Regions from separate parts of the Homo sapiens genome. Here region 1 is linked to region 2. The links come from fine-mapping of genetic effects on gene expression. A gene starts in region 2. The other region holds a variant in brackets. All regions are shown on one strand. Distances are between the middles of the regions. Region 1 overlaps ELAPOR1 (endosome-lysosome associated apoptosis and autophagy regulator 1). Region 2 holds the start of TMEM167B-DT (TMEM167B divergent transcript).

Region 1 (2,916 bases), 37 kb before region 2:
TCAAACTACAGGATTGTGGGCTAAACAAGGGGTCCTGTTTAAGACAATAAGCCTCAGGGTGGATTGTTATACAGCAAAAGCTAACTAATACAGATCCCCCTACCTTTTTTGTGAGACAGGGTCTTACTCTGGTGCCATCATGGCTCACTGCAACCTCAACCTCCTGGGTTCAAATGGTCCTCCTACCTTAGCCTCCCAAGTAGCTGGGACCACAGGGGCACACCATCATGCCCAGCTAATTTTTGTATTTTTAGTAGAGATGGGGTTTCACCATGTTGCCCAGGCTGGTCTCAAACCCCTGAGCTCAAGTGATCTGCCCACCTTGGCCTCCCAAAGTGCTGGGATTACAGGTGTCAGCCACTGCACCCAGTCTCTTTTTTTTTTTAAAGAGAGAGTCCCACTGTGTTGCCCATGCTGGAGAGTAGTGGCTTGATCACGGCTCACTGTAATCTTTAACTCATGGGTTCAAGTGAACCTCCCACCTCAGTCTCCCTAGTGTCTGGGTCTACAGGCGTGGGCCACCACACATAGCTAATTTTTAAAACTGTTTTGTAAAGTTGGGGTCTTGCTATGTTGCCCAGGCTGGTCCTGAACTCCTGGGCTCAAGCAATCTGCTGGCCATGGCCTCCCAAAGTACTGGGATTACCGGGACGAGCCACTACATCCTGCCTTTTTTTTTTTTTTTTTTTTAATGGAAAGGTTATCTGAAGCTGGGCACAGTGGCTCACGCCTGTAATCCCAGCACTTTGAGAGGCGGAGGCAGGTAGATCACTTGAGGTTGGGAGTTCAACACCAACCAGCCTGGCCAACATGGCAGAGTGTGGTGGTGCACGCTTGTAATCCCAGCTATTCGGGAGGATGAGGCATGGGAATCGCTTGAACCCGACAGGCACAGGCTGCAGTGAGCTGAGATTGCACCGCTGTACTCTGGCCTGAGTGACAGAGCAAGACTCTGTCTCAAAAAAAAAAAAAAAGAGCCAGCTGTGGTGGCTCATGCCTGTAATCCCAGCACTTTGGGAGGCCAAGGTGGGCGGATCACAAGGTCAGGAGTTTGAGATCAGCCTAGCCAATATGATGTAACCCTGTCTCTACCCAAAATACAAAAATGAGCCGGGCGTGGTGACGGGTGCCTGTAATCCCAGCTACTCAGGAGGCTGAGGCAGGAGAATTGCTTGAACCCGGGAAGCAGAGGTTGCAGTGAGCTGAGATCATGCCACTGCACTCCAGCCTGGGTGACAGAGAGAGACTCTGTCTCAAAAAAAAAAAAAAAAAAGTAATACACAGGCAAAGAAGACCTCCATTATTGGGCCACTGGAGTATGAAAGATCCATATTTGCAGAAATTGTCTAAATTTCACAAGGCTAGATAGTTCTTGGTAATGTTCTTTTGTCAGAGTTTAGTCCCTCCAGTGTCTAAGGCAGCATTACCCCTCTTTTCAGGATTCATCCTGAATGTAAAGGGAAACTCTAAAGTGTGACTGAGGCAGGAGAATCCTTTGAGGCCACGAGTTCAAGGCTGTTACTTCCATATTCCCTTTTGGCCTATTGAATACTATTTTAAAATAACCTTATTGCTTTTATAACAATGATACTTTCTTAATGTAATAATTCAAAAGCTAGGCACAGTGGCTCACGCACTTTGGGAGGCTGAGGGGGGTGGATCACCCGAGGTCAAGAGTTCGAGACCAGTGTAGCCAACATGGTGAAACACCATCTCTACTAAAAATACAAAAATTAGCCGGGAGTGATGGCAGA[T/C]GCCTGTAATCCCAGCTACTTGGGAGGCTGAGGCAGGAGAATCCCTTGAACCTGGGAGGCGGAGGTTGCAGTGAGCCGAGATCACGCCACTGGACTCCAGCCTGGACAACAAGAAGGAAACTCCATCTCAAAAAAAATTGAAAAAAAATTCAAGAAATACAGAATGCAAAAAGGGACCAAAAAAGTACCAAAAATTTCAAAATTTTGTAAACTGTACCAAATCTGGATACGAAGCGTTATTTTTGCCCACAGGGCACTTCCCTGAAAGACGTTACAATAGCTAAGACTCCTCTCAGATAGAATAGAGAGCAGTAGATAGCTCTTATTGAGTGACATTTCTGTTTTACCCTAAGATGTTACCTACCTTGACACCTTAAGATGCTACTAATTTCCAGAAGCCTGGCCCTAGAAGTTGCTTTCACCTGGACTCTATTTAGTGAGTGATCTGAATGAGAATTCATCTGTCCAGTTTCCAAAATAGAAGAAAACTCATCCCACCTGCGACACATCAGATTACAAAACTGAAAACTGAAGAAAGCTGTAAAAGTCTAGGTAAACACGACCCCCAAGAGCTCTGAAGAAACAGCATTACTTGTGAAGAGAGAGTGTCCCCACAGTTAAGCCCTAACTTGGTATGTCTGGGGCTAAAGTGACTGCCTAGTCTGTTTGGTCTGCTATAACAAAATACCATAGACTAGGTAATTTATAAACAATGGATATTGATTGCTCACAGCTCTGGAGGCTGGGAAGTCCAAGATCAAGGCACCAGCAGATTAGGCGTCCGGTGAGGGCCCATTCCTCAGAGATGGTGCTGTCTACGTGTCCTCATATAGTGGAGGGGGCAAAAATACAGGCCTCTTGTATTTATTTTATTTTATTTTATTTTATTTTATTTTAAGACAGAGTCTTGCTCTGTCACGCAGGCTGGAGTACAGTGGCGTGATCTTGGCTTGCTGCAACCTCTGCCTCCTGGGTTCAAGCAATTCTCGTGTCTCAGCCTCCCAAGTAGCTGGAATTACAGGCATGCACCACCACACCAGCTAGGTTTTGCATTTTTTGTAGAGACAGGGTTTCAACATGTTGGCCAGGCTGGTCTTGAACTCCTGGCCTCAAGCGATCAGCCTGCCTCGGCCTCCCAAAATGCTGGGATTACAGGCATGAG
Region 2 (2,916 bases):
AATTACTATTTCTAAAGGGCAGTGATAATGCACACAGTATCTTATGATTAAACAGTTTTCTTTTAACTCCACTCAAAATTTACTTTTTCTTCATTTTCCACGTCTGTCTCTATTCTTCCTACTTTTTTTCTCCCACTCTTAAATTTATTTCTTCTTTCTCCCTCCACCATATTTTTTCTTTTTCATATTGTAAAAGATATTTTACATTTTTTTAATTGAATAGAGTGAGTCTCACCAGGCTATTTCAAAATTAGTTGTATCAAGACTTTTATATTCTAAAATCAAAAAGTTGACCAGGTGCGGTGGCTCATGCCTGTAATCCCAGCACTTTGGGAGGCCGAGGCAGGCAGATCACGTCAAGAGATTGAGATCATCCTGGCCAACATGGTGAAACCCCGTCTCTACTAAAAATACAAAAATTAACTGGGCGTGGTGGCACGCACCTGTAGTCCCAGCTACTCGGGAGGCTGAGGCAGGGGAATCGCTTGAACACGGGAGGAGGAGGTTGCAGTGAGTTGAGGTCGCGCCACTGCACTCCAGCCTGGTGACAGAGTGAGACCCCGTCTCAAAAAAAAAAAAAGTTCAGTTTTCTGTGAAATTAAGTTAGTTCCTTTCTAAGGTTGTTGGAGGATTAAGTGAATTACTATTTACAACAATATCTGACATGAGTAAGTATTCCATAAATGATAGCTATTATTGTTGTTCATTTTGAGGGAAGAGAGAGACCCTCTCATATTGTTCTATACTCAGAAAAGGAAAGAGAAGAGAAACTAAAGGCAGGTAGCCCAGTGCCTAGGAACCACACCTGAAACCAGGCCTAGGCCTGCCTGACCTAAGCCTGGTAGTTAAAATTCGACCCGTGACTTAGCAACTGATGTTATCTATAGATTCCATATATTGTATGGAAAGACATTGTGAAACCTCCAGTTCTGTTCTGTTTCGCTCTGACCACTGGTGCTTGCAGCCCCTGTCATGTACCCCCTAGCTTGCTCAATCGATCATGACCCTCTCATGTGGATCCCCTTAGAGTTGTGAGCCCTTAAAAGCACAAGTTGAGCACCTGAAGAGCTCGGCTCTTGAGACAGGAGGCTTGCCGATGCTCCCAGCCGAACAAACCCCTTCCTTCTTTAACTCGGTGTCTGAGGAGTTTTGTCTGAGGCTCCTCCTGCTACAATTTGTTTTAAAAGTATCTGTGGTTGGCCTGGTGGCTCACGCCTGTAGCCCCAGCACTTTGGGCACTGAGGTGGGCGGATCGCTTGAGCTCAAGAGTTCAAGACTGGCCTGCACAATATAGTGAAAGTCTGTCTCTACAAAAAATAAAAAAATTACCCAGGCATGGTGATGCATGCCTGTGGTCCCAGCTACACGGGAGGCTGAGGTAGCAGAATCACCTCAGCCCTGGAAGTGGAAGTTGCAGTGAGTCATGATTGTACTGCTGCACTCCAGCCTGGATAACAGAGCGAGACCCTGTCTCAAAAAAAAAAAAAAAGTACTTGTCAGTGTCTACTACTGTGTGCTAAGCACTTTGCTTGATTTTGCAGAAATGGGGCATAAATAAGTCCCTGCCCTCAGAGAAGAAAATATGTTGGGTAAGATAGATGAATAAACACATTTTAATAGAACATGAGCATTGTGTAAAGACAGTATCTTTGATTTTCACAACTGTTTTACAGATTTTTTTTTTAATTAAATCTTGAGACTTAAAGAAGGGACGTGGGTGAGATAACATAGCCTGTTAGGATCCATACCCAGGTCTAAGTTCAAAGCTCCCTTTCCCTTGTTATCACACTGCCTCAAATTACAGTGCTTTCCACTGATACTGATCTTTGATTATTTTGTTACAATCATTAATGTTTCTGTCACCCTGGAAAGTCTCATAGCCTCACTGCCACCCAGTGCAGTCATGTCTCACATCAGGCCAAAGCCTGGGTGACCAGCTCTTGCAGCCCAACTGCAAAGAATAAATAGAGCCTACTGGCCTAGGGACTCTCAATTCAGACAGTTCTTCCTCAATTCATTTCAGTGTTCACTGGAGAATTGGTAGTTGTTGCCAAACGCCTGTCAGTCAAGAACAGTGGCCTGTTTGTTAGGGTTGTTGCAGTTATTGTGGTGAACACTAATCAGTCATGGGGACCATGACTGTGGCATTCTGGTTTAACCAAAGAGTAAGTTGAGCCTCAAAGGCACAGCTTGCAACAATAGCTTCATTTGAATTACAACATATTTGAAAAGGGATGTCAAATAGGCATTAATTTATGCTACAAACATTTGTTCCAGGACTTCTAAATCTAAGGAATGTGCTAGCCTTTGGGAACTCAAAGATGAATGAGAAATAGACTCTGTTCTTAAAAAGTTTAAGATTTAGTAGAAAAAGATAAGCTGTGTTTATAAATAACCAAAAAATACAGCAGAAAGTGAGAAGTGTCCAAGGAAAATGAAAACTAAGTGCCAGGGTGGCGGGGGGGTGCGTAGAAATGGGAAACTGCCTTCAGCTGGAGCGTTCAGGGAAGGCTTTATTGAGGAGCAGACATTTTAGCTGGGCCTGAAAAGCTTATAGCATTTCAATAAGCAGAAATAAAGAGCATTCTAGTGGGGAGGGAATTGAGCCATCAAAGCCCTGGAGAGGGAAAGTGTAAGGTAAGATTGGGGCACAGTAAAGCCTCCCTTCCTCCTTCAATGGCTAACTCACATTCATCCCTCAAGTCCCAACTCAGACCTCACTTGCTCAAGGTAGACTTCTCGGACCTTCAGTCTACTTCCCTGATCATGTTTCCAAAGCATACTATATCTGTTTAACTTATGTCCCCCTGCTATATTGTAATGTTCATTTGTTTTGTCATTTTATCCACAATCCCATAGCTAGTGCTAAACATTTTGCAAGTGCTTCATGAATATTTATTGCATGAATAGTTGAAT

Evidence for each region. PIP is the estimated chance that this variant, and not a neighbour inherited with it, causes the effect.
Region 1: its variant is fine-mapped to the expression of TMEM167B-DT in fibroblasts (GTEx, PIP 0.98).

The regions. Positions count from the first base shown.
Region 1 is chr1:109,120,131-109,123,046 of GRCh38, reverse strand. All of the region lies in intron 1 of ELAPOR1 (endosome-lysosome associated apoptosis and autophagy regulator 1), which reads right to left. Among named protein-coding and RNA genes, the nearest start is that of ELAPOR1, 7.5 kb to the right of the region's middle. The variant T/C (reference allele first, on the strand shown) is at 1,755.
Region 2 is chr1:109,083,278-109,086,193 of GRCh38, reverse strand. TMEM167B-DT (TMEM167B divergent transcript) reads left to right here and starts at 1,444. Exons shown (of 2, transcript XR_947688.3): 1 at 1,444-2,916.